Linked DNA regions of Homo sapiens: regions 2, 3 and 4 are each linked to region 1. Evidence: fine-mapped expression QTL. A gene starts in region 1. Each other region holds a variant in brackets. All regions are shown on one strand. Distances are between the middles of the regions.

Region 1 (8,099 bases):
GAACCTGGAGCAGCCTAATCCCTCACACTTTGCCTGGCTGGCTATTAATTGTATTTCAAGTCCTGGTTTAGCAACCGGCCGCGGTGGCTCACGCCTATAATCCCAGCACTTTGGGAGGCCGAGGTGGGTAGATTACCTGAGGTCAGGAGTTCAAGACCAGCCTGGCCAACATGGTGAAACCCCATCTCTACTAAAAATACAAAAATTCGCTGGGTGTGCTGGCACGCGCCTGTAGTCCCAGCTACTCGGGAGGCTGAGGCAGGAGAATTGCTTGAACCCAGGGGGCGGAGGTTGCAGTGAGCTGAGATCGCTCCACTGCACTCCACCTCGGGCAACAGAGTGAGGCTGCGTCTCAAACAACAGCAACAACAACAGCAACAAAAAATAAATCAAGTCCTGGCTTAGCTGTCACCTCCTCAAAAAAACCCCTTCCCTGACTCCCCTGCCAATAGTGTCAATTAATTGCATCTCAACGTTTTCTGCAGAGCACCCACCACATTCTGGAATTATATACTTGTTAACCTTTCTAGCGTCTATTTCCTCACCTGCCTGCAGCCTCCATGTCTAGCTTGTCCTACCATTTGATGCCTGTTGCCTGGTTCATCACCTGTCACATAGTAGCTGCAGGATAAATATTTGTTGAATAAATCAATGAATTGGCCAGGCATGACGGCACACGCCTGTAATCCCAGCACTTTGGGAGGCCAAGGTGGGGGGATTGCCTGAGGTCAGGAGTTAAAGACCAGCCTGGCCAACGTGGTGAAACCCTGTCTCTACTGAAAATACAAAAATTAGTTGTGGGTGCCTGTAATCCCAGCTACTCGGGAGGCTGAGGAAGGAGAACCGCTTGAACCTGGGAGGCGGAAGTTAAAGCGAGCCGAGATCCCACATGATCATGCCACTGCACTCCAGGCTGGGTGACAGAGTGAGACTGTGTCTCCAAACGTAAATAAATAAATGAATCCAGGCCGGGCACGGTGGCTCACGCCTGTAATCCCAGCACTTTGGGAGGCCGAGGCGGACAGATCACCTGAGGTCAGGAGTTCGAGACCAGCCTGACCAACATGGAGAAACCCCGTCTCTACTAAAAATACAAAATTAGCCGGGCGTGGTAGCACATGCCTGTAATCCCAGCTACTACGGAGGCTGAGGCAGGAGAATCGCTTGAACCCGGGAGGCGGAGGTTGCAGTGAGCCGAGATTGCACCATTGTCCTCCAGCCTGGGCGACAGAGCGAAACTCCATCTCAAAAAAAATAAAATAAATAAATAAATAAATAAAAATAAATGAATCCACTCAGATGTTGATAATGGAACTTGGACCAAATCGGGAAGGGCCTGTCTTCCATCTGGGTGTGGGTAAGCACAGAAAAATACTGCTGAAAGGGCTTTGAGGACACCTTGAGTCCAAAGCTCTGTTGAGAAGAAGAGTTAATGAAACATCCACCTGGTGGAAATGACTGCTCTGGCACAGGCTCCATAGGGAGGATATGCTCTTAGTGTTGTTTTTCAGTGGGAACAGCTGATGCTCAGGACTCTCCCTTCCTCCCCGCAAATGAGGAGGGCAGTCAGTTGAATGCAGCGTTGATACACAAATACATGTACATGTACGTGAGTTACGTGATTCAATGGAAAGAAATATAAAATGAAGAGAGATCACAATGGGTGGGGGGCTTCAGGCCCATCCATCTGGGGGCAAGAGCCTGGCAATCTGGCACTCTGGAGCATGCCTCTGTGGAGGCAGGGACGTGCCCAGGTAAGAGCAGTGGCCTGGCTCAATTCCAGCTGTGCCACCCACCTACTGTGCAACCTCATTAGGGTACTTCATTTTTCTGAGCCTCACTTTACTGTTTTGTAAATTGGTAATAGAAATAGAATCTACATCAGATTGTTTTTCTGTGACAGAGTCTTGCTCTGTCGCCTAGGCTGGAGTGCAGTGGCGCGATCTCCGCTCACTGCAACCTCCGCCTCCCAGGTTCGAGCAATTCTCCCATCTCAGCCTCCCGAGTAGCTGGGATTACAGGCACGTGCCACCACACCCAGCTAATTTTTGTTTTTAGTAGAGACGGGTTTTTGCCATGTTGGCCAGGCTAGTCTCCAACTCCTGACCTTGAATGATCCGCCCACCTCGGCCTCCCAAAGTGCTGGGATTCCAGGTGTGAACCATTGCACCCGGCCAGATAATTGTTTTTTAATTATTATTATTTTTGGAAACAGAGTCTCGCTCTGTCACCCACACTGGAGTGCAGTGGGGCAATCTTGGCTCACTGTAACCTCCACCTCCCAGGTTCAAGCGATTCTCCTGCCTCAGCTTCCCGAGTAGCTGGGATTACAGGCACATGCCACCACACCCAGCTAATTTTTATGTTTTTAGTAGAGATGGGGGTTTTGCCATGTTGGCCAGGCTGGTCTTGAACTGACCTTGGGTGATCCGCCCACCTCGGCCTCACAAAGTCCTGGGATTCCAGGCGTGAACCATTGTGCCTGGCCAGATAATTGTTTTTTAATTATTATTATTTTTGGAAACAGAGTCTCGCTCTCTCACTCCCACTGGAGTGCAGTGGCGCAATCTGGGCTCACTGTAACCTCCACCTCCCAGGTTCAAGCGATTCTCCTGCCTCAGCCTCCCCAGTAGCTGGGATTACAGGCGCGCACCACCACGCTCAACTAATTTTTTGTATTTTTGGTAGAGACAGGGTTTCACCATATTGGCAAGGCTAGTCTTAAACCCTTGACCTCAAGTGATATGCCTGCCTCGGCCTCCCAAAGTGCTGGGATTACAGGCGTGAGCCACAGTGCCTGGCCTGTTTTTTTAATATTTTATTTTTTAAAATTTTTATCCTTTTTAGAGATAGGGTCTCACTCTATCACCCAGGCTGGAGTGCAGTGGCATGATCATGGCTCACTGCAACCTCGACCTCCCAGGCTCAAGCTATGCTCCTGCCTCCACCTCCAGAGTAGCTGTGACTACAGGGGCGTGCCATCACACCTGGCTAATTTTTACATTTTTGGTAGAGACAGGGTCATGACATGTTGCCCAGTCTGTTCTGGAACTCCTGGGTGCAGGCTATCTGCCTGCCTCGGCCTCCCAAAGTGTTAGGATTACAGGTGTGAGCCACTGCGCCCGGCCAACATCAAAGAATTATATGAGAGGATATGTGCAGAGCCCTCAGCATGATGCCTGGCACATAATGCTCAGTAAGTGTGGATCTTGGTTGTGGGGCAGGGAGATTTAATCAGGCTCCTCCAAGACCTGGACCTGCATCATAATCACACAAGTCTCTTGGCTGCCGTACTCATTTGGCTTCCCAAGTTCCCCTGACAAGAGGAAGTCTGAGGCCAGGTGCAGTGGCTCATCTCTAATCCCAACACTTTGGGAGGCCAAGGCAGGCGGATCACTTGAGGACGGGAGTTCAAGACCAGCCTGGCTAACATGGTGAAACCCTGTCTCTACTAAAAATGCAAAAATTGGCTGGGTGTGATGGTGCATGCCTGTAATCCCAGCTACTGGGGAGGCTGAGGCACGAGAATCGCTTGAACACGGGAGGCAAAGGCTGTAGTGAGCTGAGATTGTGCCACTTCTCTCCAGACTGCGCGACAGAACAATTTAAAAAAAAAGAGGAAGACTGGATCCTGGACTGTGGTCTCTGGAAGGGTATAAGAAGCATTTCCACATGGACTGTGGTGAATTGACCATTGGAGACTCAGTCTGCCTTGCCCTCCCTAGCTGCTTTCTTGGTACAGCAGGCTTGACTTGGGAAATCACTCTGCTCAGAATCCAAGTTCCTCAACTGAAAAGTAGGTAAAAAGCGATCTATTTGCAGAGCTGTGTGTGACTCAAAAGCCAGGGAACACCTTGCACACTGCGAGGTTTTCATTCTGAAAGCGATTCTTGCAATCTTGCCCGCAGCGCCATTTCATGCGGCTCTCTCTCCTCTGTGCCTCAGTTTCCCTGTGTGTAAAATGTGGGAGAGTCTACTGCCTTCCGTGGAGGCTGTGAAATTATGTCTTTAAACTAATTGGTCCAGACGTGGGGCCAAAGTATCGGGATTACAGGTGAGCCACTGCACCGGGCCTCAGCCTTGTCAGGGGGCCGGAGGTTGCTTAACCCCCTGGATCCCAGCTTCCTCATCTGTAAAACGGGCTGATGCCTATACAGCTCTCAGAACCACACCTGGTTCAGAAGTCCCCAAATGGTAGTCCTCAAATTCTGGCCAAGGCCAAAGCAGGTGCTTCACTTCTTCCGTGCACACCCTGCAAGTGGGCTCCGGGTGGCAGGTGCAGCTACGCCCTCTGCCGGTCGGGGCGGGAGACAAACTCAGGGGAGTGGGGAGAACCACAGCGACTCAGGGAGCTATTTCAGAGGGGGCAAGTGGAAGGCGCTGGGGCTCCAGGAGAGTCTGTAAGCGAACAGATGAGGAAATGACCAAAGAGTTAATATGTTAGTGCAGCGCTTGGAACGCAGAGGGAAGGACCATTTGCCCTGTGGTTGGTTGGTTCCTTCCCTCTGAATTTAGGTCCATTTGGTTTGTCCCGGAGTGCTTGTCAACCCGTCAGAGGGCCTGGGAACGGAGCATCCTGGGAAAGATAGTTCCCAGACGGGCTTCCCGCGCTGCTTCCCGGCGCCTTCGGCGGCGAGAGGACTCCATTTCCCGACGTGCCCCGGGACCGGGAGGCGGAGGGCCGCCGTGGCGTCGGTCCCCGGGCCGAGCCGGGGGTGGGGGCTCGAGGCGCCTCCGCGGCCGTGGACGAGCGTCCGTGCGGCCTGGTCCGGGCCATGTCCGCGTGAGGACCCCGCCGCTGTCGCCGCTCCCGTTCCGGCCCTGGCCCCTCTGCCCGGCAGCGCCGCGCACCATGGGCTCCATTCTCAGCCGCCGCATCGCGGGGGTGGAGGACATCGACATCCAGGCGAACTCGGCCTATCGCTACCCTCCGAAGTCCGGTGAGCGCCCGGCCCCAGGCGCGGACTGCTAGGCACGCGCTGGAACGCGGACCCGGCGGGCGCGGGGGCGGGGACTCGGGGCGGGGCGCCCTGCTCGGCCCCCTCCGGGCCTCGTTGCTACCCCGAGCCTTCGCGCGGCCCCACGGCCCCGATCCCTAGGCGTGGCTGGGGGCCCCGGAGGAACCTGCCCGAGCCGTACCTGGCGCTGCTACTGCCCGGCTTGGGTGACCTTGGGGCAGTCCCTTCGCCCCGGGCACCTCAGCTCCGTCCTTGCAACAGGGGGGAGCTCCTGGGGGAAACCCCGAGGGCGGGGCGGGGTGCTGAGCGCGGGTCCCGGCGCATCGCTTCTGCCTAGAAAACTCTCATTGTCATCAGATTGACCTCACCGCGGGGGCCGGCTTTCGCTTTCTTTAGTGGCTTGGTGTGAAGGCCGAGCCAGTGGTTTGGGCAATTTCCCTCCCATCAGGACGGAGGCTCTTGGTGTGTGGGTTGGAGGAGTGGGGCTGGGCCCAAGGAGACGATTATAGTTGATCGGGAGGGGCCAGGGTCCTTGCTGAGAGGACCCAGCCGATACTCGGGCCTCTGTGTTATGGCTGAGGGACGTAAGACACCAAGGAGGAAGTGACTGCCAAGATCTCAGCTGGATGGAAGCATAGTTGGGACCGGGACCAGCTGTGGGGCTCCCACGTAGCTTTGTTCCCAGCTCTCTTTCTGCCTCTATTGATGAGTTATGTGTTGACTGGGAGCATCTAGCTCCAAGTCTCACCCTCCATCTCCTCGTGGGGTTCTTTGTGGTGGAAAGGAGAGAAGGAAGAGGAGAGAGAACTTGGGCATCATGGGGACATCTAGATTGGGTCCTCAGATCCTGGCGTCTCATCTGATCTGATGTCTCAGTCTCCTGGGTGTCTCCGGACACCCACAGGCCAGATTTCTCTGAGTGTGGGCCAGGTCCACAAGTGGGGGAGGACTGCTAGACATGCCAGGGCCTGCCTGGGACCCCTTGGGGCCTGGGAACCTGCATTTTCAACCCATTCCCCATGTGAGTTTTACGTCCACTCAGGTTTGAAAAACTGCTCTGCCCAGGTTTTGTAAGGTGTGACTAGGTGAGGGCCTGGGGCCACTGGGATGAAGTGAGGGGAACCAGCACAGTTTGGGGGCACTCTGAAGGGGATGGACTCAGAGCTAGGCAGAACGCACTGTTGCCTGCCTGCTGGGGAGAGCACAGCTGTATCCCAGGCCCAGCAGCGGGTCAGCCTGGCCTTTGGGTGGTTCCACCCTGGGGTTTCCCTAGAGGTTCCGAGGGCTGATGGCCCTACATCAGATGGAGCAGTTTGCTGTTGTCCTCTTTCATCTCTGATATTCTTCCAGCCTGCCTCTGGCTGAGTGACCTTGGTCGAGGTTGCTTAACCCCCTGGGTCCCAGTTTCCTCATCTGTAAAACGGGCTGATGCTTATACAGCCCTCAGAACCACACCTGGCTCAGAAGTCCCCAAATGGTAGCTGCTACAATTGCTCATAAAGGAAGATAAGTGACTAGCTAATGACCATAATCATAGTAAGCAGTGGCATGACACAGATATCAAAAAGTTGAGTGGCACTTCCTGTCACCTGGGACCTGAGCTCACTTGATGTCCGTTCTTCACTTGGGCTGAACAGAATAACATACATGTCATTTACAGCCCGCTTCGGGATCCCACTGTGGCTGAAATGTCATTGCTAATCACTCGTGGCCCTCCCTCCCACTGAGCATCCATCGCAGAACACTCGCGTCAGCCACTATTGGTTGGCACTGGCACCCAGGTGCAACCCATCAGCTAGCTGCCTGGGTCATGTTGCCAGTGCCAGCAGTGTTCTGCGCCCATCCAGTCCACAGGTCCTCTCCAGCTGTGCTTTTTCCCTTTCTCTTCTCCATCCTTCCCTGGGGCCTTGCAGATACTTGTTCTTCTCTTTGTTCATCTCTTCTGGTCCTTGCCTTTGTGCCGCACTGGTTTCCTAGACTCCCCGCCTCTCCTGTCTCCTTAATGAGAACTCCGTCAGGTCAAGGGTGGGAGGCAGGCCGGGCCTCAGCAGCATTTTGGTGTGTTTCCCCAAGGGCAGACCGGGGACCGTGGAGACATTTGAGATGATTTTAGGGGTTGCCCCCATGGACCATTCAATCACCCGATGAGAAAGCTTTCTTTTCACATCTCTGTCAATTTTGTTGATTATGTCAAGGAGAAAGAGTCACTGGGTGGTAATATATGCATTTTTAACACCTAACACTGTCCATTTTTCTTAAGGGAACTTTCAGCATGTTCTGCAGCAGCGCTCAGCTTGAATTTAATATTTGCTTTGTTTTCACTATATCTGTTTTACTCTTCATAGCTTTATTGAGATGTAGTTCATGTACCACACAACTCATCCATTGTAAACATGATTTGATGATTTTTAGTTAAATTATAGAATTGTGCAGTCGTCTGGCCAGGCGCGGTGGCTCACGCCTATAATCCCATCACTTTGGGAGGCCAAGGCGGGCGGATCACAAGGTCAGGAGATGGAGACCATCCTGGCTAACACGGGGAAACCCCGTCTCTACTAAAAATACAAAAAAATTTAGCCGGGCGTGATGGCAGGCGTCTATAGTCCCAGCTACGCGGGAGGCTGAGGCAGGCTGAATTGCTTGAAGCTGAGAGGTGGAGGCTGCAGTGAGCCGAGATTGCGCCACTGCACTCCAGCCTGGGTGACAGAGCGAGACTCCGTCTCAAAAAAAAAGGCTGGGCGCGGTGGTTCACGCCTGTAATCCCAGCACTTTGGGAGGCTGAGGCAGGTGGATCACAAGGTCAGGAGATCAAGACCATCCTGGCTAACACCGTGAAACCCCATCTCTACCAAAAATACAAAAAATTAGCTGGGTGTGGTGGCGGGCACCTGTAGTCCCAGCTACTCAGGAAGCTGAGGCAGGAGAATGGTGTGAACCCAGGAGGCGGAGGTTGCAGTGAGCCGAGACTGCGCCACTGCACTCCAGCCTAGGTGTCAGAGTGAGACTCCGTCTCAAAAAAAAAAAAAAAAAAGAATTGTGGGTGGGTGCGGTGGCTCACGCCTGTAATCCCAGCACTTTGGGAGGCCGAGGCAGGCGGATCACGAGGTCAGGAGATCGAGACCATCCTGGCTAACACGGTGA
Region 2 (8,099 bases), 61 kb after region 1:
GCAGGGCACAGCTCCCAACAGCTCAGCTCTCCCTGGTCCAGGACGCCCCTGACCGTGTCTCTCGCCTCTGGCATGGCTTTGCTCTGCCCCCGCTCCCAGCTCCTGTCTGTCACTAACCCTTCACTCTCCACCTGGGGCCAGGCGGGACTGAAAGCCAGGGAGGGGCTGGTTGAGGCCAGGGCTGGGGCGGTTCTTGGCAGATGCCCTCGTGCCCGTCATCCCAGGCACCAGCGTGGGCATTTGGGCATCCAGCCCCGTGCTGGAGCTGATGGCTGAGGCAGGGAGGGCATCGGTGCTGCCAGGGAGCTCTTGGCCACCCTCTGAGGGTGGGGGAGTCTCAATCCCCCAAAGAACAGAGTGGACAGGAGGTCATCAGGAGGAGCGTCTGGGGAGCAGGTGGTCCCTGGGCATGAGCCCCCTCACGCACCCTGTCCCTACAGAACTCTGACAGCGTCCCACCTGGCTACGAGCCCATCTCGCTGCTCGAGGCGCTCAACGGCCTCCGGGCTGTCTCCCCGGCCATCCCCTCGGCCCCTCTTTATGAAGAAATCACCTATTCAGGCATCTCGGACGGCCTGTCCCAGGCCAGCTGTCCCCTCGCGGCTATCGACCACATCCTGGACAGCAGCCGCCAGAAGGGCAGGCCGCAGAGCAAGGCCCCCGACAGGTGAGCAGCAGCCAGGCCAGGTGCATGGCAGGGTGTGTGGTGGCGCGCGTGCGGAGCGGGTGTCTTTGTGGTTTCAAATCAGTTTGTGATGTGTTCTGTGTGGCGATTCCCCAGAAGGACTCGGAGACCCCGTATCAGGTTAGACTCATGGGTAAAGTTTATTACGGCAAAGAACGCAGCAGACGAGGCAGGAAGAGCGTCCGGGCAGCTGGAGGCTTTGATCCCCCGACCAGGGCCACACCGGCGTGCAGGCGCATACGTGCTCTCGAGCAGGAAACTGCAGGGGTCGGTGCTGTGTCTCTGCTGAGGGGAGCCCCTTTGAGCCTCTGGGTTCCCAGACTTCATTGGGGGGCTGGCCACGTAGGCCCACTCTGCCGGTGACCAGCCAGGGCAGCCGAAACTCAGGACCTGACAGTGACCCAGGCACACTCACTGCTCTTGCCGTTCGCCCGTGACGAGCCACGGGGCACGGTCCCTCTCCAGGCGATGAGTGCATCATCCATCACTCATACGACAGCCTTCGGAGGGCCTGGCTCCTGGGGTTGGCCACGGGTCATTCGTGGTTCCCCTGGAGCCTTGCGGTGTATAGAGCGGCGGCTGCCAGGGGGACTCTGTGCCTCAGGCCTGTCGGTTCTCGTAGAAGAGTGTCAGGAAGGCGCGGGTTCTGCAGGCCCGCCCTGGGCACCCTCCATGCCCACGAGGAGGCAGCGCCAAAGCTCAGAGAAACGGGGGCCTCTGTCTCCTGCTGCTTCTCCTCCCCAGGAACCACCAGCGGTTTCTCTTCTCCTTCTAGAAAGAAAAGGAAGGCTAGGCCCGTGCCAGTGTGTCGGGAGCCCCTCTGTCGGGCGGGTCTGTGGTGGCCGCTGTTGCCTGTTGGCCGTTTGGGTTGGTCCCGGTGGCTGGTGATGCCCTTCTCCAGGGAGTGTCCTTGCGTGGGTCCTGGCAGGCGTGTGCAGGGGCCCCCAGGTGCCCTGCATGGCTTTGGCAGGGTTAGCCTTCCTTGTCGTTATCCTCTCACCCCTGCCCACCCTCTCCTCTGTCCCCAGCACCCTACGGTCCCCGTCTTCCCCCATCCACGAAGAGGATGAGGAGAAGCTCTCCGAGGACGTGGACGCCCCTCCCCCACTGGGTGGCGCAGAGCTGGCCCTGCGGGAAAGCAGCTCCCCTGAGGTGAGGCCCCCCCGGGGAAGCTTTGCGCACCCGCCCGGGCCAGCCCTCCTCCAGCTTCTGTCGCTGGAATCAGACCCCATCCCACTGCCCGCCTGGGCGCCCCCGTGCTTGTTGGCTCTTGCTGAGCTGCGCGGCTCCTTAGCCTCGGTCTGTGGAGGCAGCACCCCCTGGTGGAGCGGCTGTGCGGTCCCGGGAGGGCCGTGCCTGATGGCGGCTTGTCCTGGAGCGGTGGCCGCGGCTCTCTGAGCTCTAGGCTACTTTCCCCTTTGTTTCCTAGAGTTTCATAACAGAAGAGGTTGATGAGTCGTCGTCACCACAGCAAGGTGAGCGCCTCCTTCCATGGGCACAAACCGCATGCAGGGACCAGGCAGCCCTGGCTTACTGGGGCCTTAGGGCTCCAGGTGGTGTTGGGCCAGCACCTCTTCTGCCCCAGGAACCCTCGGCCAAGAGGCCCCCCTCGGCGGCACTGGGATCCCGGCTGGGAGGGACTGAACGGGTGACTGGGTCAGGCTGCGCTGTTGACCCTGCAGGGCTGTCTGCCTGGGATGGGGAACACCTGCCAGCATTCAGTCCTGGTTTTGAAACATGAGCGTGTAATGTTTCTATGACCAAAAAAAAAAAAGCCCTATGCTCTGAACATCCAGGACACAGTGTAAAAAAGGGGAAAAAAAAGCCCCATGCTGGGGGATGGGAAGGAGGGAAATAGAAGGGAAACACCCAGCTTTGGGGTCCCTGGAGAGCAGGTGGGGTCACGGTGGAGTCCTGCTGGAGCACAAGCCTGGGGTCCCCACAGTGGCTACAGAGCCCTTGGGTAAGAGAGACGGCCTCCTGCCCAGAGGGACCTGCCGGGACCTGGCCCCTGCCTGTAGGTCCCTAACCTCACCCTCTGCCTGCAGGGACCCGAGCAGCTTCCATTGAGAATGTCCTGCAGGACAGCAGCCCCGAGCACTGTGGCCGAGGCCCACCTGCTGACATCTACCTGCCAGGTAAGGGGCTGGGGGTCTGGGGGTGAGGGGCTGGGTGCCTGTCTTAGTCCCCAGGGAGGGGGCCCTGCTCTGATGGTCGGTGCATAGCAGCAGAGGCTGTCCATTGGAGCCTGGTTCTCTCCCTGGCTCTCAGCCATGCCCCTGCTATTGACCGTGAAGCAGGATGCGGGCCAGGGCCATGGCCACAAAGCAGCCTCAGGCAGGGCCTGGCTCTTGGGAGCGGAACCTGCACCAAAGCCCCTTCCCTCCCTGGGGCCACATTGGCCACAGGAGGTGAGAGACGCGAGAGAGGCTGCCTGTGAGAGGATGGGGTCCTTTTCCCTCTGCCTGCTGCTCACGCCAGGAGGGCAGATCCGGCCCCACTGGGATCACCACATGTTCCCCCACTCCTGGTCCTATCGTGGGCCCACAGGCCCCATGCTGGGTGCCACGTGCGCTCCTGGCAGTGCCTGAGAGCTGCAGACAGAGCAGGAGCAGGTACCACACGCTGTGCTGGGTAGCGGGGGCCCTGGGCCACAGAGCGCAGGGGCAGTGTCTTCTGGGTCACCCTGCCCCGGGCCTGACAGAGGCCACCTGATGCAGCAGCACATCCCAGGCCAGGCACAGAGGACGGCGGGGGCGCCAGGCGCCAGCGGGGAACAGCAAGGCAGCAAGGCTGGGACAGAGGGTTGCTCTTCTCACCTTTCCCGGAGGCTCGGGCCCCAGACCCCATCAGCCAAGCACCTTCGTGCTCTGCTCTGCTGGGATAAGATCCTCAGTTTCGAATCCTAAGCTCTAAAGACCGGGAGGGAATGGGGGCTCTCAGACTAGTGTCTCAGCACCTGCCACGAGGCTGTCTGCGGCTCTGGAACTGCGATAAACAGCCACGGTGCTTTCAGACATGACCCCAGAGCCACTGCTTAGGGAGTGTGGCTCTTCCCTCGCGGCTGCCAGGCTTCACCCGCTTCCTGGCCCCAGGGCCCACCATTGCTCAATCCTCCTGAGTCACCTGGTGACCTGGGCCTGACATTGGGTGGTTGTGACGTGCTTTAGTTGGAAAGGGGCTCTTGTGCCCCCGGACTCTGGCTGAGCAGTGGCCTGTGCTCATGGGCTGGGCGTGACAGGTCGCAGGTGCAGGAGCAGGCACTGCCTCTGGTGCCCTGATGACCACAGCGGCCTGCCCCGAACAACTCACAGCAGAAGGTGTGTTTAGGACCAGCTTACCTTAAAGTGACACAGAATTCGAGTAAGGTCTTTCAGAGGATCTCAAATATTTCATTCTGATTAAAAACTTGGGGGGTGATCGGGGAAGAGGCCAGAAGGACCTCAGCTTCTGGGAGCCACGAACATGATATCTGATCCTGCAGGGTGGCCCTGTGGGGGAGCATCTCAGAGGCTGCGCCTCCCCTCTGTGGCCAGGCCTGGGAAGGATTGGGACAGCTACAGAGGAGGCCCACACAGAGGAGGCCAGGACTCCGAGTCTCATGCCCCACCCACAGGGGAGGGTCTCGGGCCTTCTTCAGGCCCACAGACGGGGGCAGGCAGTCGTCATCTGTGGAGGCGGTAGAGGAGAGGCCGAGTCTACATCGGGGCAGCCTGAGGTGAACTCCTGGGCCCTGGGCCCCGCTCTTGGAGTTGGCTGCTGCTGAATGCCAGCAGGTCAGCCTGCACGGCCTCAGTTCTGAGCCACGGAGAGCACATGTGCCTTTGGGGGCTGTTTGGCGCCATCTC[C/T]GTGGCTGTCAGCCTTGTCAGCACAGGTTTCTGTGTGTTTTTAAATCCATGTGGTGGCCCCTCTGTTCCACTGACTTTTTCACATCACAGAGCCCTTGACTGTCTATCCGTGTCTGTGCGTAAGGCATGAACACACGCCAGAGCCTTTGGTTTCTCATAGGGGTGCAGCCGCTGCCTGGCGGGGTGGGCGGCATCACTGAACCCTGCTGTCCCTGTAGATGGGAGGGCCCATGAGATGGTGAACACTGGGGGCCCTGGTGTCTTGGACTTGGCCCTGAGCTCGGTCCTGTCTAGCCTCAGCCCCCCACCCAGGGCCTTCACTCCTGAAACCAGAGGTGGACTGCGCCCGTTAGGTCCTTCATGCGCCCTTCCCTAGGCTGCGGCAGCGGGAGGTATGGGAGGGAGGGGCAGGGCCAGTGCGCTCCTCCGCGTTGAATTCTGGCTGCGCTCTGCCTCCCAGCTGTGGTTCTCCTTGTGGTTCTCTGTGGTTGCAGCAGAGTGTTTGTTTCTAGACGGCCTCGACCGTGTCCCCAAGCTGGTGCCCTTGCTGTGGCTGTGCTGGCTGCTGCGCGCTTGCTAACCGAGCTTCCGTCTGTCTCTCCCCCTCTCCGCGCAGCCCTGGGGCCCGACTCCTGCTCTGTTGGTATAGACGAGTAAGCCGGTACGTGACCTCCCAGACGCGCTTCGGGGGCTCTGACGCGCGTCCTTGGAGAGAGGAGCCCTCCCCTGCTCTCTGGCGGGGGTTCCTTCTGGTTTTTGGGTCTTCGTCCGCATCCGCATCTTCCCAGGGGCCCTGGATTCCGAATCCAGAGCTCTCCAGTGGCTGCTGCACCTTCCCCCAGAAAGTGGCCTCCTGGGGGGTCCTGACTTTCGGGGCCAGAGGTCTCTCCATCTGGACTAGGCGGCCGGTCAGGCTCTTCTTCCAGCCTTGAGGGGCCCTGGAACAGTCCCAGCCCAGGCAGGGAGACAGACACAGCCCAGGTGCGCCAGAGCCACTGTCCACTGCGGGAGGCAGGAGCTTGAGGGATGAGGGCAGCACCGTGGAGGGAACCCCAGGGAGACATGGGGTGAGCGTCCCAAGGGGAGAGGCCTGGGCCTGGCCTTGTTCCGGATGGTCCCACCATGAGTTCGCATCGGTCCTGCAGCAGACACGTTAGGACGCTCAGCAGGTCCACTCCCGTGTTCCGGTCGTGGCTTTAACAATTCATGGGGAAAGAATGCGCCCCGATTGGGAGAGCCCCTGGATCACGTCTTCCCAAGCTCAGTCCCTGTCTCTTGGAGGGAGTCCGTCCTCGAGGGGCCCTCTGGTGCCCAGGGGAGAGTATCTTGCGTCCTGTCCTGAGGGCGTCCGCTCACACAGCCACCTGCTCCCCCGCTCCCTCCTTCCCTTGTCAGCATGGCCACCGTGGGCCTGGCATCACCATGGGCCTGGCACACAGTCCCTCGTGGGCTGCCTTTGTGCCATGAGCCCACTGCTGCCGACTCACCTGTCCCTCCCAGTACTGGAACCTTCTGGAACACCAGCACTAAAAGATAGGAGGCCCTGTGAGGTTGGCATCCCCCATCCCCCCCAAGAGGCGCCCTCTACCAGGGTGGCCCAGGTGAGTGTTTTACAGAAGGCGGCTCTGTCCAGGCAGTGGTTCGCACCTATAAGCCCGGTACTTTGGGAGACCGAGGGGATAGATCACTTGAGCCCAGGAATTCAAGATCAGTGTAGAAAACATAGACCCCCTCTCTATGAAAAATAAAAAATTGGCTTGGGCGTGGTAGCTTGTGCCTGTGGTCCCAGCTACTCAGGGGTGCTGAGGTGGGAGGATTGCCGGAGCTGGGGAGGTCAAGGCCCACTCCAGCCTGAGACGCTGTCTCAATAAAAAAAAATACACACACACCCACCCACCCACTCCAGCCTGAGACCCTGTCTCAAGAAAAAAAAAATACACACACACACACACACACACACACACACGGGGGAGAGAGAGAAGGCAGCTCCAGGAGTGCCACCAAAATGTAGGCAGACGGATTGGGGACCCTCTGCCTTCCCAGAGGGTCTTGGCACACAAGCTGCGTGCAGCTCTGGTCTGCCGAGGCCCATGCAGCCTGCTGGGAGGTGCCTGGCCGGGGGTGCAGGCTCTAAGAGGCCCTTTCCCCTTGGGTGGACTTGAGCCGGGTCAGGGAGAACTTCGCTTCTTTTGACTGCGCTCTGCATTCCCATGAACCTCTGTCTTCTTGAGCCCAGCGAGTCCCTCTGTTGACCCCTGTCCTGAGCCATTATACCCCTAGATTGAAACAGTCAGCACCTTTCAGACGGCCCCGGCCTGCGCATCGGTGGAAGGTGCCGTGCGAATGTCACGATTCAGGTCAAGCTTCCGGAGCTGGGGAGTGCAGGTGTGATCTAGAACAGGGCTCACAGCCTCGGAAACCTGCTCTCGCCGCGGCCCCCGAAGAAAATAGACGCCCTTCACCGGAGAGTGGGGCCTGGGCCGTGTCTGCTGGGAGCCATGTGTCAGGGCTGGTGGCTGGGTGTCAGGCAGCCCTGAGGCCATGCTGGCCCCGTCCCAGGCTCTGCACCAGCACCATTGCCCAAGCCCCAGGGACGCCAGACCCATCTGGGGACAGCGCCCGGCGGCGTCGTGCAGGCCACAGTCTGGGCATTGGGGCTCTGTGGGAGGCTCCTCTCTTTGCCTTGCAGTAGCCATCCGGGGGCTACTCTGAGCACGGGCTTGTTCTCACCCAGGGCCGCTCCCCACCCCTGCACCCTGGGTTGACCGAGTTCCACCCTAACCCAGCCGTAAGAACCTTGGCAGGACAGTGGCTGGCCACATCCCAGGAAACCGGAACCAGGGCAAGGGCAGGAGGCCCAGAGGGCATCCACCGCGGTGCCGTGTCGCGCTCTGACTCGGGGCTGCAGATCTGCTGTGGGTGTCCGGGGATCTGGGATCGTCTGTCCCAAGAGGGACACAGCGTATTTGGCACAGTTAGGGAGTCCCCGGGCCCTTGGTGTGCTCACATCTGAGTGAATGCTGTTGTGGCCACAGGCGGCGGGAGTGGGGGTGCTGGATGGCCCAGCCCCTCTGGGGCTCCAGATCGGTAGGAGCGGGTGGCGTGGCACCAGGCATCCGAGTGTGACCCTCCTCCCTCTGCTCCCACCTGCAGGACGGCCCACCTCCATGGAGACGGCCCACGGCCTCGCCACCACCAGCCCCACCTGGCCTCCACTTGGTGGCCCCAGCCCCGATCCCAGCGCCGCCGAGCTGACCCCACTCTGAGAGCCTGGCCGAGCTGGCAGCATGGAGCCCTCGGCTCCCCAGACTTTGCCGAGGGGCTGCTCCGGACCCCGTTGTGAGCCGGCCTCCTGTCTGCATGCCCCCTGTGGCCACCAGGCTCCGAGGGGCCGTGGTGACTCTTGATCAAAGAGCACAGTGAACTGTCCCTTCTGAGTCTCCCTTTTCTACAGTTGATATATTTGTAACTGGTACAAGATGAAGGACAGCAGCTTTCCATCCCTAGTTCAGAGCCCCCGTTCCCCAGGGTCCTGTGGGCTGAGCGGCTGGGGCTGGGGCTGCCCA
Region 3 (8,099 bases), 47 kb before region 1:
CTTTCCTCCCAGTTGGCTTCATTCTCAGGCAGGTGCTCCTCAAGTCTTGGCAACAGCAGACTTATATTCCACCAACCTAGCAAAAAGAAAACCTCTTCCCCTTCTGGAAAGCTCTGTCCACATGGAAAGTGGAATAATCATAATAGTGCAGGCATACATACAAGCTCCTTCTGTACTTCTGTAGCCAAAAACCATCAGCCAAGTATTTTCTAACACCCTACCATGCATGGAAGGACATGGAGTCCCCGAGACATGAGGCAGCTGTCCCCGTCACAACTGATGAGTCACAGCTGGGGTCTGAAGCCAGCTCTCCACACCCCCAGGTTTAACAACTTCCCCCAAATAGTGTAATTTTCTGTATCATCCCGGCTTCACAGATCAGGGCCTGTATTTGATCATCATGGCAACTGTGGGAGCTTTAGGCATGGGCTGGATGGCTCCCATCTAAGCAGAAAGAACGCTGTTAAAAGCTGCATCATGAGCTACTCAAAAGGGCCCCTTAGACAAAGCTGTTGGAGAAACCATGCCTTCTCGGCGGGGCCTGGTGTCTCACGCCTGTAATCCCAGCACTTTGGGAAGCCAAAGCAGGCGGATCACCTGAGGTCAGGAGTTCGAGACCAGCCTGGCCAACATGGTAAAACCCCCGTCTCCACTAAAAATACAAAAATTAGCTGGGTGTGGTTGCAGGCACCCGTAACCCCAGCTACTCAGGAGGCTGAGGCACGAGAATCACTTGAACCCAGGAGGTGGAGATTGTAGTGAGCCAAGATTGCGCCACTGCACTCCAGCCTGGGTGACAGAGCAAGACTCCGTCTCAAAAAAAAAAAAAAAAAAAAGGTGGGGTCGGTGGGGCGGCATGGTGGTTCACGCCTGTAATCTCAGCATTTTGGGAGGCTGAGGTGGGCAGATCACAAGGTCAGGAGATCGAGACCATCCTCGCTAACACGGTGAAACCCCATCTCTACTAAAAATACAAAAAATTAGCTGGATGTGGTGGCAGGTACCTGTAGTCCCAGTTACTCAGGAGGCTGAGGCAGGAGAATGGTGTGAACCTGGGAAGTGGAGCTTGCAGTGAGCCGAGATCACACCACTGCACTCCAGCCTGGGCAACAGAGTGAGACTCTGTCTCAAAAAAAAAAAAAAAAGAAAAAAGAAAAGAAAAACAATGCCTTATTGGCCTGTCTCTTGGAGGTGTTTTTGTTGTTGTTGTTTTGTTTTGTATTCTTTTTGAGACGGAGTCTCTCTCTGTCACCCAGGCTGGAGTGCAGTGGCACGATCTCAGCTCACTGCAACCTCTGCCTCCCGGGTTCAAGTGATTTTCCTGCCTCAGCCTCCTGAGTAGCTGGGATTACAGGTGCAAGCCACCACGCCTAGCTAATTTTTGTGTTTTTAGTGGAGGTGGGGGCTTCACCACATTGGTCAGGCTGGTCCCGAACTCCTGAACTCATGATCCACCCGCCTCAGCATCCCAAAGTGCTGGGATTACAGGCATGAGCCACTGTGCCCGGCCCTCTTGGAGATTCTTAATGTGCTTTTGCTCATTCAAGGCTCTGGGAAGTCCTGCCGTACAGAAACCTGTTGAAATGTTTTTTATTTATTTATTTATTTACTTATTTTTGAGACAAAGTCTCACTCTGTTGCCCAGGCTGGAGTGCAGTGGCGCCATCTCAGCTCACTGCAACCTCTGCCTCCTGGATTCAAGTGATTCTCCTGCCTCAGCTTCCTGATAGCTGGGATTACAGGCGCATGCCATCAGGCCCAGCTAATTTTTGTATTTTTAGTAGAGACGGTGTTTCACCATGTTGGCCAGGCTGCTGTCGAACTCCTGACCTCAAGTTATCCACCCACCTTGACCTCTCAAAGTGCTGGGGTTACAGGCATGAGACACTGTGCCCGGCCTGACATGCTTTCAAGCCCAGCATTTCCCAAACTTGTTTGCCCATGGAACCCTTTCCCACTCCTTGGGAAACACTGGATTTGGAACCCGTTCTTCCTTCTCAAGCTCTTAGTCACCTAGAGCCACGGGAAAAGGCAGGGGTGGGACAGAACCTGGACCCCCAGTCCACAGACTCAGTTCCTTTGACAGGTACACCCAGAAAGAATGGACATCTTTGCTGAAGACTTCAAAATACAGAACTGGAAGATGGTTGCACTGCAGCGGGAAGTGGTGAGGGCCACCATCCCTGTCTTCCCCCACTCCCCCTGGGACCCCCCAACCTCCCGGGTCCTGGGTGCTGAGGGTAGGGAGGTGCAAGGAGGAGAACACAGCCTGGAAAGGTTTCTTTGCAGGTGTGGGGGACACTGCCCCCTCCAGGCTCACAGCCCTCATTTTCTACCCCCACCTTGCAGGCTTCTCTCCAGAATAAGTTTAAAACCATCCCCAAAACCGAGGACATGGTGCTCTGGAGTGGCCTTCATGATGCCATGTTCACCTCAGTGAGTGAGGAAGGAAGGGGAGGTTAGCAGGAAGCTGGGGAGCAGGCGGGTGGCTGACTGAGAGTGGGAGGCGGGGCTGGAAGCCAGCAGAGCCCCTCTGCCCCCTCTTCTGCAGGAAATTGGTTCATCACCACTGGACCTGTGGCAGTCTGTAGAGCAGCTCCCAGAGGCTGCCCTGGCCCAGACCACCAAGTACCTTGAAGCTACTCGTGCCATCCAGGTCTCCGAGCCCGTCCAAAACCCCCAGCTACTGCAGACTGTCTGGCATTATGAGGTCCCAGAGCTCCTCCCGGAGGGCTCATCTGCCCAAGCAGTTTCACTCAGCAGAGCCCAGGAGCCAGCGCAGCCTCCGGCCCTCACGCCTGAGTCTGCACCTGGGTGCACAACTGAATTTGCACCTGGGCCTGCACCTGGGACTGAACCTGTGCCAGGACTGGAGCTGGGGCTGGAGCTGGAGCCTGTGCCTGCCCTGGGGCCTGTCCCAGGGCCCAGTGTGACACCTGGGTCCTTGCCAGCACCTTGGCCTGTGCTTGGACCTGTGCCTGCCCCAGGTGCCCAGCCTCCACCACTGGGAGACTGGCCTGCACTCCCAAGACGCTGGCCTCTTCCCCAAGGCTGGCCCAGGGTGGGCTCTTGGCCTCTGTGGGACTTAGGTGTCCTGCGGCCAACTCAGCCCCAACCCTCCAGGGCCCCACCACCAGCCACTGAGTTTGGCTCATTGTGGCCTCGACCACTCCAGCCATATCAGTCTCGCCAGGGAGAAGCCCTCCAGCTCGCAGCTGTCCAAGTAAAGGGGGAGGAAAATGATGTCCCCAGCCTAAGGGGCCTTCGGGAGAGGGCCCGCAAGGATGGGGCCCCCAAGGATAGAACTCGCAAGGATGGGGTCCCCAAAGATAGAGGTGGCAAGGATGTGGACCCCAAGGATAGAGCTCACAAGGATGATGTCCCCAAAGATAGAGGTGGCAAGGATGTGGACCCCAAGGATAGAGCTCACAAGGATGATGTCCCCAAAGATAGAGGTGGCAAAGATGGGGACCCCAAGGATAGAGTTGGCAAGGATGGGGCCCCCAAGGAAGCACAGCCTAAGGCTCCCCAGTCTGCCCTTCACCGGCTGAAAACCACCGCTGCCATCGCCGCCGCTGCCGCCGCAGCCTACGCCGCTGCCACATCCTCCGCTGCCCAGGCAGCCAAAGTTGCTGCCAAGTTTGTCAAGGATGCCCCAGCCACCAAAATGGCCGCCATTGCAACAGACACGGCTGCAGCTGGGCCCCTAGGGGTCTTTGCAGATGTCCTGGGTGCAGGGCCTTCCCGGGGAGCCACAGAATCCCAGATCTTGGGCGATGATTCCGAAATCTACGAAATCCTCTCTCCCTCCTACTCTGCTGCCAGCATCGGTCCCGATCCAGCCCTGTCCCAGGCCATGGTGGCTACCAAGCAGGCCATGAGCCCTGAAGACAAGAAGAGGGCTGTCAAGTATTCCATGAGCCACATAGCCCAGATACCTGTCAAACACGACTCTCTGAAGGAAGAATTTGCCCAGCTGTCCTGTAACCTGAACCAGCGCTTGAGTTATCTAGGTAGGCCTGGTCTGGCCCTGGGAAGGGCACAAGGGAGTGGGGCTCTCCCTGCAGCCTTTGAGAAGTGTGTCCTGTCCTTCACTGGGCTCCACCAACAAAATCTGCATTCCACCATTAGCCATTCTTTCCTTTGGCTTAAGCATTTGGCTCTTAACGAGTCTATTCTTTTCTGTTGAATGTACAATGAGGTCTTATCTTAGGGCAGGGAGGCTGTTAGGGTCTAAAGTTGGCACGAGGAAAATGGCATGCCAAAATTACTCTCAAAAACTCTTGTGGCCAGGCGTGGTGGCTCCCACCTGTAATCCCAGCACTTTGGGAGGCTGAGGTGGGCGGATCACCTGAGACCGCAAGTTCAAGATGAGCCTGACCAACATGGAGAAACCCCGTCTCTACTAAAAATACAAAATTTGCTGGGCGTGGTGGTGTATGCCTGTAATCCCAGCTACTCGGGAGGCTGTGGCAGGAGAATCGCTTGAACCCAGGAGGCAGAGGTTGCGGTGAGCCAAGATCATGCCATTGCGCTCCAGCCTGGGCAACAAGAACGAAACTCTGTCTCAAAAACAACAACAA[C/A]AAAAAAAACTCCTTTGTGATAGCCCATAAAACAGTATTGTATTGGCTAAGCATGGTGACTCATGCCTGTAATCTTAGCACTTTGGGAGGCCAAGGCAGGAAGACTGCTTGAACTGGAAGTTCGAGACCACCCTGGGTAACATCAAGACCTCATCTCTAAAAAAATTTTTAAACACTAGCTGTGTGCGGTGGCTCACGCCTATAATCCTAGCACTTTGGGAGGCCAAGGCAGGCAGATACGGAGACCATCCTGGCTGACACGGTGAAACCCCGTCTCTACTAAAAATACAAAAAAATTAGCTGGGCATGGTGGCGGGCGCCTGTAGTCCCAGCTACTCAGGAGGCTGAGGCAGGAGAATGGCGTGAACCCAGGAGGCGAAGCTTGCAGTGAGCCGAGATCGTGCCACTGCATTCCAGCCTGGGCGACAGAGCTAGACTCCGTCTCAAAAAAAAAAAATTTTAAACATTGGCCGTGTGCGGTGGCTCACGCCTGTAATCCCAGTCCCTTGGGAGGATGAGGCAGGTGGATCACTTGAAGTCAGGAGTTCGAGACCAGCCTGGCCAACATAGCGAAACTCCGTCTCGACTAAAAATACAAAAGTTAGCCAGGCTTGATAGTGCGCGCCTGTAATCCCAGCTACCTCGGAGGCTGAGACAGGAGAAACACTTTGAACCCGGGAGGCAGAGGTTGCAGTGAGCAGAGATTGTGCCACTCCCGCCTGGGCGATAGCGAGACTCCTCCTCAAAACAAAAAAAAAAGCCTGAGTGGTGGCGCAGGCCTGTAGTCCCAACTACTCAGGAGGCTGAGGTGGGAAGATTGCTTGAGCCTAGCAGTTCAAGACTGCACTGGGTTATGATCGTGCCACTGCACTCCAGCCTGGGCAACAGAGTGAGACCTTGTCTCCATACAAACAAAATTTAAAAAAAAATTTTTTTAATTATTGTTATTATTTTTTGAGATGGAGTTTCACTTTTGTCGCCGGTTGGAGTGCAATGGCGTGATCACAGCTCACTGCAGCCTCCGCCTCCTGGGTTCGAGAGATTCTCCTGCCTCAGCCTTCCAAGTAGCTGGGACTAGAGGCATGTGCCACCAAGCCTGGCTGATTTTCGTATTTTTAGTAGAGATGGGGTTTTTCCATTTTGGCCAGGCTGGTCTCAAACTCCTGATCCCAGGTGATCCACCTGCCTCGGCCTCCCACAGTGTTGGGAGTACAGGCGTGAGCCACTGCACCTGATAAAAAAAATTTTTTTTAATTAATTTAAAAACTAATAGGCCGGGTGCGGTAGCTCATGCCTGTACTCCCAGCACTTTGGGAGGCTGAGGAAGGCGGATCACGAGGTCAAGAGATCGAGACCAACCTGGCCAACATGGTGAAACCCTGTCTCTACTAAAAATACAAAAATTAGCTGGGCGTGGTGGCGTGTGCCTGTAATCCCAGGTACTCGGGAGGCTGAGGCAGGAGAATTGCTTAAACCCAGGAGGCGGAAGTTGTAGTGAGCCGAGATCGCGCCACTGCACTCCAGCCTGGTGACAGAGCGAGATTCCATCTCAAAAAATAAATTAATTAAAAAATAATGAAGAAATAAATAAAAAGGTACCACAAGCTGCGAGGCCCAGTGCATTTCCACTGGGCAGTGCTGCCTGAGATGCTCCATAAGAGAAGCAGCTAGAGCCCAACAGAAACATCTTCCTCCATCCGAGCCCTCAGCAGCCACCCTGTCCTCTGCTTTCAGCCAATATGGGAGGTCCTTCCAGCCTCGGGACAACAGTGGACATATTGCAGAAAAAGATTGGCAGCCTCCAGAAATCTAGGCTCAAGGTTAGTGTCTCCGGCGAAGGGCTTTTGAGGCAGTGATGGCTTGAGGTGAGCTGGCTGAAGACTCCTTGACTCTGCCCCCCTCCCAGGTGCAGCTGTGTTCTGCAGCAAAACAGGCTGGGGGAAAGCGAGCTGGCTGCGAAGGCAGCTGCTGCCTCTCAAAGCTGATTCACTGGTGCGGTGGGGGGGCCCAGCAGGTGTGGGGCTACACGGTTCTGTGTCTCAGGTGGCTGTTCAGAGGGCAGGTGAAGCCGGTGCGGTGGCTCATACCTGTAATCCCAACGCTTTACAAGGCTGAGGCAGGCAGATCACTTGAGCTCAGGAGTTCAAGACCAGCCTGGGCAACATAGTGAGATCCCTTCTCTGCAAAAAAATACAAAAATTATCCAGGTGTGGTGGTTTGTCCCTACAGTCCCAACTACTCGGGAGGCTGAGGTGGGAGGATCACTTGAGCCTGGGAGGTGGAGGCTGCAATGAGCCAAGATCACGCCGCTGCACTCTAGCCTGGGTGACAGAGCAAGGCCCTGTCTCAAAAAAAAAAAAAAAAAAAAAAAAAAATGGCAGGTGGAAGGCACCCTGGTCTGATACCTTATTTTTTTTTTTTTTTGAGACGGAATCTTGCTCTGTCATCCAGGCTGGAGTGCAGTGGCGTGACCTCAGCTCGCTGCAACCTCTGCCTCCTGGGTTCAAGCAATTCTCCTGCCTCAGCCTCCCTAGTAGCTGGGATTACAGGGGCCCGCCACCACACCTGGCTAATTTTTGTATTTTTTGTAGAGACTGGTTTCGCCGTGTTGGGCAGGCTGGTCTCGAGCTCCTGACCTCAGTTGATCTACCCATCTTGGCCTCCCAAAGTGCTGGGATTACAGGCATGAGCCACCACGCCCAGCCTGGTCTGGTACATTCTTCTTGGCCTCAACCCTCCCTCAGGCCCCTTCCCGGCCATGGTAACTTCAGAAGCAGAGGCCTGGGGTGTCTGTGTCTCCCCCTTTTAGGAGGAAGAACTTGAGAGAATTTGGGGCAACCAAATAGAGATGATGAAGGATCGCTACATCACTTTGGACAAGGCGGTGGAGAACCTGCAGATTCGCATGGATGAGTTCAAGGTTAGGAGGACTGGGTAGGCTGGAGAAGGGCTGGCAAAGGGAGAATTCCTCACCTAGACCTTCTGGCCCTTCCCGAAGGTTCTGCATGAGGTGGGGATGCACTTGAGGCTGGGAACCAGTGGGGCTTTACTGGCATTTTACTGTGTGTAAATTACACTTCAATGAAAAGCAAACGAATCCCACCACCCCCCCCCACCCATATAAACAGAAGGGCCGGGACAATGTTCGTCTTTTTGACCACTGCGTCACCTGCCCCTGGAAGGGCAGGGGTAGTGAAGGCTCCATCACATTTGCTGAATGACTCAGTGAATGATTAAGAGAACTTCTTGTGCCAACTGTTACATTCTTAACATTTCCCTGAGCCAAGAGGTAGAAATATTTACTGACATTTTGGGCTGGGTGATAAAAATAAAAAAATAATAATAAAAAGAAATATTTAGGCTGGGTGCGGTGGCTCACATATGTAATCCCAGCGCTTTGGGAATCTGAGGTGGGAGGATCACTTAAGACAAAGAGTTTGAGACAAGCCAGGGTAACACAGGGAGACCCCATCTCTACACAAATAAAAAATTTAGCTGGGACTGGGCGCGGTGGTT
Region 4 (8,099 bases), 710 kb before region 1:
CCACATGGTGGATGCTGAGTTCCAGGTGACACTTGGATCGGGGCCAGGCAGCCCTCTTCCCCCGAAGCAGGGGATCCCTCTGCCCACTGTTGGCATAAAAGTAATCGGGGCTGTACGGACAGTGTGATGACCCTCCGCCCTCCCTTCTGGACTGAATGACTTGGGCTCCGACTGCTGGAATGTCCTGCGAATTGCCCGTGACTGAGGAGAGTTGCCTCATTCAAGGTCAAGGTCAAGTTCACATCCCCTTTCTGGGTTCTACTTGGAGGTGGCTGAGGCAGGGGGAGAATCTCAGCCTGTTCCCTGAACCCAGGTCTGAAGTGGAGGTTGGGTGAGGCCGTGCTCCGGCCTGTGGCACAGCCCAGCGTCTCCCGGGCATGTCCAGCTTCTGCACTTCCCCACGCGAGCTGACAAGGGCACCTGAGTAATCTCTGCATGCTCCTCTCCATCTCAGAGTGTTCGTCCTAGGGAGCCCTGTCTTTGGCAGTAGCCGCCCTTGTATTCTTTTTTTCTTTTCTTTTCTTTTCTTTCTTTTTTTTTTTTTTCTGAGACATAGTCTTGCTCTGTTGCCCAGGCTAGAGTGCAGGGGTACCATCTCGGTTCACAGTAACCTCTGCCTCCCGGGTTCAGGTGATTCTCCTGCCTCAGCCTGCTGAGGAGCGTGCCACTACACCTGGCTAGTTTTTGTATTTTTAGCAGAGACAGGGTTTCACCATGTTGGCCAGGCTGGTTTTGAACTCCTGACCTCAGGTGATCCACCCACCCCAGCCTTCCAAATTGCTGGGATTATAGGTGTGAGCCACTGTGCCTGGCCGCCTTGTATTCTTTTTTGCAGCTGCCAAAACAAATGACCACAAACTGGGTGGCTTAATCCACAGAAATTTATTCTTATACAGTTCTGGAGGGCTGAGGTCCAAAATCAAGGTGTGAGCAGGCCACGCCGCCTGCAGAGGCTCTAGAGGAGGGTCTGTCCTGCCTCTCCCAGCTCCAGGCCTTCCTGGGCTTGTGGCTGCATCTCTCCAGTCTGCCTCCGTCTTCACATGGCCTTCTCCTCGGAGTCTCTGTATCTGTCCTTCTCTTCTAAGGACTTGTCATAGGGCCCACTGTAATCCAGGATGATCTCATCGCGAGAGCCTCAGCTTAATCACATCTGCAAAGATCCTTACTCCAATAGGATCGCATCCTGGAGGTTCCAGGTGGACGTATCTTTTAGGGGAGGCCGCAACTGAGCCCTCGGCCGCAGTCCAGGCTTCTGTTTCTATGGCAACACTAAGAGCAACCGGTGAGCTCCAGGAAGGGCGGGGTCTTGGTTGCATTTGTCTCTGGGCCTCCAGGAGTTCCTCAGAAAGGGTGGCAACATGAATAGTCCCATCTGCCACCGCCGTGAACTGTCCTCTCTTGATGGTGCTGAGAGCAACATGCAGTGTGCAGGGAAGACGCAGACCCCACCCCCACACCAGCACCCCCAGTGCTGCAGCCAAAGGAGTTTCCAGCTCGGCCCTGCCCCTCTAGGGTGAGCAGGTGAGCAGGCCAGCTTAGGAGAGAAAGGAGGCCTGATGGCTTGGTTGGATGTCTTTTGAAACTTTTCTTTTTTTAAGACAGAGTCTTGCTCTCTTGCTCAGGCTGGATTGTAGTGGCTCAATCACGGCTCACTGAAGCTTCAACCTTCTAGGCTCAAGCAATCCTCCCACATCAGCCTCCTAGTGGCTGGGACTAGAGGCATGCACCACCACATCTGGCTAATTAAAAACAAACAAACAAACAAACAAACAAACAAAAAAACCCTGTAGAGATGGGGTCTCACTGTGATGCCCAGGCTGGTCTCAAACTCCTGGGCTCAAGTGATCCTCCAGCCTTGACCTCCCAAAGCACTGGGATTACAGTTGTGAGCTACCACATCTGGCGGTCTTTTGAAACTTTCTACCGAGGATAAAGAGTAACTATTTTCCACCAGGGAAGCTGTCAAGGTTGAAGTTTTAAGGGCTTCTGTGTGGGCCAAGCCAGTCACAGGTACCTTCCCAGGAATGTAGGGCCCTGAGATATCAACTGGGAGACAACATGTATGAGTCAGTATTCTCCAGAGAAACAGAGCCAATGGGATGTGTATAGATACACAGAAAGAGGTTGAGTATGAGGAACTGGCTCACATGGTTACGGAGGCAGAGAAGTCCCAAGATTTTCCATCTGCACGCTGGAGGTGTGGTTCCAATCCAAACTCAAATGACTGGGAATTGCGGGGCCCATGGGTTAAGTCCTTGTCTGAGTCCAAAGGCCTGAGAACCAGAAGCGCCAATGTCAGAGAGCAGGAAAAGAAGGATGTCCCAGTTGGAGCCGAAAGAATTCACCCCTCCTCAGCCTTTTTGTGCTATTCAGGATTGTACCTGCCCACCTGCATTGGTGAGGGTGATCTTCTATATTGAGTCTGCTCCAATTCAAATGCTAAGCTCTGCCGGACTCAGTGGCTCACACCTGTAATCCCAGCCCTTTGGGAGGCGGAGTTGGGCAGATCACTTGAGGCCAGGAGTTTGAGACCAGTCCAGCCGACATGGTGAAACTCCATTTCTACTAAAAATACAAAAATTAGGTGGGCATGGTGGCATGTGCCTGTGGTCCAGCTATCCAGGAGGCTGAGGCACAAGAATCACTTGAGCCTGGGAGGCAGAGGTTGCAGCGAGATGAGATTGTGCCACTGCACTCCAGCCTGGGTGACAGAGCAAGACTCTGTCTCAAAAAAAAAAAAAAAAAAAACATTTAGCTGGATGTGATGGCTCACACTTGTAGTCCCAGCTACTTGGGAGGCTGAAGTTGGAGGATCACTTGAGCTCGGGAGGTCGAGGCTGCAGTGAGCTGTGATTGCATCACTGCACTCAAGCCTCGGCAACAGATCAAGACTCTGTCTCTCAAGTCAAATCAGGCTGGGTGCGGCGGCTCATGCCTGTAATCCCAGCACTTTGGGAGGTGGAGGTGGGCAGATCACCTCAGGTCAGGAGTTCAAGACCAGCCTGGCCAACATGGTGAAACCCCATCTCTCCAAAAATACAAAACTTAGCTGGACGTGGTGCTGAGTGCCTATAATCCCAACTACTTGGGAGGCTGAAGCAGGAGAATCACTTGAACCCAGGAGGGGGAGGTTACAGTGAGCCAAGATCACACATGTGACAGAGCAAGATTCCGTCTCAAAAAACAAAAGTCAAACCAAATCAAATCAAAAGGCAGCAACTGAGAAAGACATTCATCTTCAAGGAAGATGCAGGTGGCTGCTGAGAGAGAGGCGGGTTTCGGCACGTGGCCATGTGTGCCTACTCATGGAAGTTCCCCAGAAGACCTTTGTTCGTGGAAGTGATGAGGCTGTGATTCCATTTGTGTGGCGCTTTCTCTCTTTGCCCCATGCCCCCCTCTCCCCTCTGTGATGTCCATGGGCAACGGGGGGCCTTGGAAGAACCTGGGAATGAGGCTGAGTCCCAGCCTGGAGCCTGCATCTCATTGCCTGTAGAGCGAGGCCGCTCTCGTCACCTCCTGCCAGTTGTCATGAGGCTCAGATGAGGTGATGGGGAGAGAGGATGCAGCACAGCAAACTGGGCTTTCGACCCGGGAGGGGCC[A/G]CGTGGCTCATCTACAGGCTTTGCCACCACTAGCAGGCAACTCTGGGCAAGCTGGGTTCTCAGAACCTGGATTTCCTCTTGCTAAGAAGTCGTGAGCATCTAAGGAGCGTAGGCGCTGCCCACCGAATGGTGGTTACCAGATCATGGAAAGCAATGAGCTCAGTGCCTAGTGCATAATGGGGGCCCTGCGTGTGAATCCTTTCCCTTCCTTAGGGCCACTCGGTGGTACATGAAGAAGCCATGAGAGCAGGGATGAGGCTGCCTTTGAGTGTCCTGGGCTGGGTGGCCATAGGGTAGACTGCAGGGGGCCCAGGTGGGGACCGGCATCCATGAACTGTGTCTTGGTCACCAACTCACTGTGAATGTATGGCTTCTACTAACTCTGAGGCACATGGATGTTTAATGACTTGCCCAAGCCCAGCCCCAGCTGAAACTGCAGCGTCCTGTCTACCGTGGGCTCTAAATGATGATGAAATCATGTTTGGTCCACAAGACTCATGACCCTTAGAATCCCTTAAACTGCAGCATGCATGATTTTGTGCATCCATGCACAGATGCGTGGACTGTCTAACAGTTCTCTTTTTGGGATAATTTTTTTTTTTTTTTTGAGACAGAGTCTCGTTCTGTCACCCAGGCTGGAGTGCAGTGGCGCAATCTCAGCTCACTGCAACCTCTACCTTTCAGGCTCACGCGATTCTTGGGCCTCAGCCTCCTGAGTAGCTGGGACTACAGACATGCACCACCATGCCCAGATAATTTTTGTGCTTTTTTTTTTTTTTAAGTAGAGATGTGGTTTTGCCATGTTGGTCAGGCTGGTCTTGAACATCTGGCCTCAAGTGATTCACCTGCCTCAGCCTCTCCCAAAGTGCTTGGATTACAGGCGTGAGCCACTGTGCCTGGCCTGCAATAATATTTAAAAAAAAAAAAAAAAGTAAGACTAGTCAATTGCAGCAGTAAGAATTTTTTTTTTTTTTTTTTTTTTTTTTTTTTTTTTGAGATGGAGTCTCACTCTGTCGCCCAGGCTGGAGTGCAGCGGCATGATCTCAGCTCACTGCAAGCTCCGCCTCCCAGGTTCATGCCATTCTCCTGCCTCAGCCTCCTGGGTAGCTGGGACTACAGGTGCCCGCCACCATGCCCAGCTAATGTTTTGTATTTTTAGTAGAGACGGGGTTTCACCATGTTAGCCAGGATGATCTCGATCTCCTGACCTCGTGATCTGCCTGCCTCGGCCTCCCAAAGTACTGGGATTACAGGCATGAGCCACCGCACCCAGTCTTTTTTTTTTTTTTTTTTTTTTTTGAGACGGAGTTTTGCTCTTGTCTCCAAGACTGGAGTACAGTGGCATGATCCCAGCTCACTGCAACCTCCGCCTCCTGGATTCAAGCGATTCTCCTGCCTCATCCTCCCGAGTAGCTGGGATTACAGGCGCGTGCCGCCATGCCCAGCTAATTTTTGTATTTTTAGTAGAGACAGGGTTTTGCTATGTTGGCCAGGGTGATCTCGAACTCCAGACCTCAGGTGATCCACCCGCCTTAGCCTCCCAAATTCCTGGGATTACAGGCATGAGCCACTGTGCCCAGCCAAGATTTTTATTTATTTATTTGATTTTTTTTAGAGACAGAGTTTCTCTCGGTCATCCAGCCTGGGGTACAGTGGCAAGACCATAGCTCACTGCAGCCTTGAATCCCTGGGCTCAAGCAATCCTCCTGCCTTAGCTTCCTGAGTAGCTGTGACTATACATGTGGACCACCACGCCCGGGCAGTTCTAACTTTTTCTCATAGAGACTGGGCACTAAGTTGCCCAGGATGGTCTCGAACTTACAGGCTCAAGCAATCCTCCCACCTCTTCTTTCCAAAGTGCTGGGATGACAGGCGTGACCCACTGTGCCTGACCAAGATAAATACTGAATGCTTAGCGCCAAATAGCAGATGAATAAGGAGGGCTGATGTCTGCAGGGTTTACCCCATTGCGTTGTACAACAGGCCTTGGCAGCCCTAAAACAAGCAGACGGGTTGTTTGTCACCGGGATCAGGAGACAGCAGAGCTTTGTCAAGCTGCCTTGCTGGGGTGAGCTGCAGTGGGAGTTGGACTCTCCCACGACACAGAGACGGATGCAAGATCCAGGACTCGCGCCTCCTTGGTGCTCTCCTGCTACCTGGTGGCCTCTTCTTTCCTTTAGTCCTCTGTCCCTCTTCCACTTCTCTCTGCCTCCTCCACCCGTTCCTGCAGGCGTCTGGCCATCACCTTCGATGGGTGCTTCTGTTCATCTTTACCACTCTGAACCCTCCAAAATAGCCCCCATGCAAACCAGGACGTATATGACCTCCCACGGGCAACAACAACAGCGGAGTTTACCTACTTCAATTGCAAGACGCTCCTTGGAGGGTAGAAACAGTTCTGGGACAAACGCATTTGATGTGAATGGGCCCCACTCTCTCCTGATCCACAAAGCTTCCTGTCCTGCCCTCTTGAGGGCCCTGACCTCATCCTTCCCTCTCAGTCCAGCCTCTCTCGGGAGTTTGACTTGTATGGTGCAAATTGAAGGCCCACATAGAGTAAGAATGGATCTTGATGGGGTCACAGCACACCTGGACTGATGGCGAGAAGTCCAGCCCTGTAGAAGTAGTCCTAGGGCCACACCATGACAATTAATGTGCAAAACGTGGCCACCCCTCTGAATGGTGACAATGGTGACAATAGTTGGACCATCCTCCAACAGCAGACACCCACTGAGTGCTTACCCTACCGGGAGGGCTGAGTCAAGCTCTCTCTACGCATGATCTTGTTGACTCCTCACAACCGCTCTGGGAAGTAGATGCCCCTATTCCCCTTTTACGAATGGATCACCCTAAGCTCAGGAACATATCCAAGGACAGCAGGACACCAAGGCCCATCCGATCTCACAGTGACAGCATTGAGTCCCACACCGCACAGAGGGCGGGGCTGGCACACTCCCCACAGCGTGGGGAATCTGCACTTAATTGCATAGCAGGGAGTGATCACACAAGTTCTGTCACATACCAACACTGCACGCCCCTCTGGCTCTTCCACCACGAAGCACGTCCTGGTGATGGACGCAGGGCAGGGAGAGGAGGAGAGAGGAGACCTCGGGTTCTGCCTTCCCCAGCCCCTCTCTGCTGGGCACATGGAGATCCACCTGGCAGTTGGCCCCTCTGGGCCTTGAGCCAGTCTGGCACAGGCAATGTACCGTTCGGTGGCATCTGGACCCATGTTTGTGCCTTAAGCATGACAGGTGGCCCTGGCTCAAACTTCCTGGGCTCCTTCTCCCTGTTTCCTGATGGGGGAAACCCTAGTTTTGGGCCCAGGCTGGGACCTGGGATGGACTCAGATGCTTTGGAAATGTATGTTGGGCTGGTGGGTCGGGCCTCACCAGAAGCTTGTGCACAGGCCAAGGAGCTTCCAGGAAATCACTCACCCGTGGAAGGGAGGAGCCAGGCCCAGTGAGCTGACCTGGAATAGTTAGTTACATGGCCTATCACATACCAACACCGCACACCCCTCTGGCTCTTCAGACCCTGTGGCATACGTAGCCAGGGAGCAGGAGGAACCTGGGGGTGCATATACGCCATAAGTAAAGATGAGCTGATTTACCCTATAAAACAGGGCACAGACACTGCTTTGGTGATGATAGTAGCCACCAGTAGTCCAGAGAGAGCAGATGCAGCCTGGTGAAGCCGTAGCAGCCAATTTGTTTGAGTGCACACATAGACACAGCCTTCAGTGACATCTTCTCAGGGGCTGTAGCAAGGTCAGGGTGAGAGCTGGCCGGGTTATGACTGCCTTCTTCCCATGAGGGCAGCATGCACCAGAGAAAGGACATGGGCTCTGGGGAGCTTGGTTCTTTTTTTTTTTTTTTTTTTTTTTTTGAGACAGAGTCTTACTCCCATCACCCAGATCACCTAGGCAGGAGTGCAGTAGCACAATCATGGCTCATTGCAGCCTTGACCTCCTGGTATCAAGTGATCTTCCTGTCTCATTTTTTTTATTTTTGGTAGAGACAAGGTCTAACTATGTTACCCAGGATGGTTTCAAACGCTTGGACTCGAGTGATCCTCCTGCCTCAGCCTCCCAAAGTGCTGAGATGACAGGCATGAGCCACTACACCTGGCCGGGAGCTGGATTCTAATCTCATTCGCACCACTTCCTTGTGTGTGATCTGGGGCAAGTTAATTAAAGACTCTTAAACTGGGATGTGAATGCCGCTGCCTGCTGTGGTTTAAAATATATCCACAACAAACTCTTTGATATTCCTCCCTTTAAGAGGTGGAGCCTCATCCCCTGCCGTTGAATGTGGGATGGAATTAGTGGATCACTTCTAAATGATAAGGCAGGGGTGACACTGTGTGACCTTGGGGACTGGTCATAAAAGGCCTGTGGGTTCCTACTTTTTCCCTCCCTTGCTCTCAGATCCCTCCTCTGGGGAAAACCAGCTGCTATGTCATTAAAACAGCACTGTGTTGGCCACTGGTGAAGACCA

What was found. PIP is the estimated chance that this variant, and not a neighbour inherited with it, causes the effect.
Region 2: its variant is fine-mapped to the expression of MGRN1 in whole blood (TOPMed, PIP above 0.99).
Region 3: its variant is fine-mapped to the expression of MGRN1 in whole blood (GTEx, PIP 0.93).
Region 4: its variant is fine-mapped to the expression of MGRN1 in kidney cortex (GTEx, PIP above 0.99).

Annotation. Positions count from the first base shown.
Region 1 is chr16:4,620,109-4,628,207 of GRCh38, forward strand. MGRN1 (mahogunin ring finger 1) reads left to right here and starts at 4,718. Exons shown (of 17, transcript NM_015246.4): 1 at 4,718-4,940. The coding sequence starts at 4,853. RefSeq lists enhancers at 4,380-4,489, 4,447-4,977, 4,500-4,794, 4,978-5,507, 6,038-6,566 and silencers at 4,560-4,739, 4,980-5,209.
Region 2 is chr16:4,681,110-4,689,208 of GRCh38, forward strand. It overlaps MGRN1 (mahogunin ring finger 1), which reads left to right. Exons shown (of 17, transcript NM_015246.4): 13 at 441-667; 14 at 1,714-1,837; 15 at 2,115-2,160; 16 at 2,734-2,823; 17 at 7,687-8,099. The coding sequence ends at 7,799. Among named protein-coding and RNA genes, the nearest start is that of NUDT16L1, 8.4 kb to the right of the region's middle. RefSeq lists an enhancer at 1,671-2,171. The variant C/T (reference allele first, on the strand shown) is at 4,534.
Region 3 is chr16:4,572,623-4,580,721 of GRCh38, forward strand. It overlaps C16orf96 (chromosome 16 open reading frame 96), which reads left to right. Exons shown (of 16, transcript NM_001145011.2): 3 at 2,087-2,167; 4 at 2,350-2,436; 5 at 2,552-4,013; 6 at 6,318-6,403; 7 at 7,393-7,503. Among named protein-coding and RNA genes, the nearest start is that of C16orf96, 20 kb to the left of the region's middle. The variant C/A (reference allele first, on the strand shown) is at 4,584.
Region 4 is chr16:3,909,019-3,917,117 of GRCh38, forward strand. No RefSeq gene overlaps it. Among named protein-coding and RNA genes, the nearest start is that of CREBBP, 32 kb to the left of the region's middle. The variant A/G (reference allele first, on the strand shown) is at 3,601.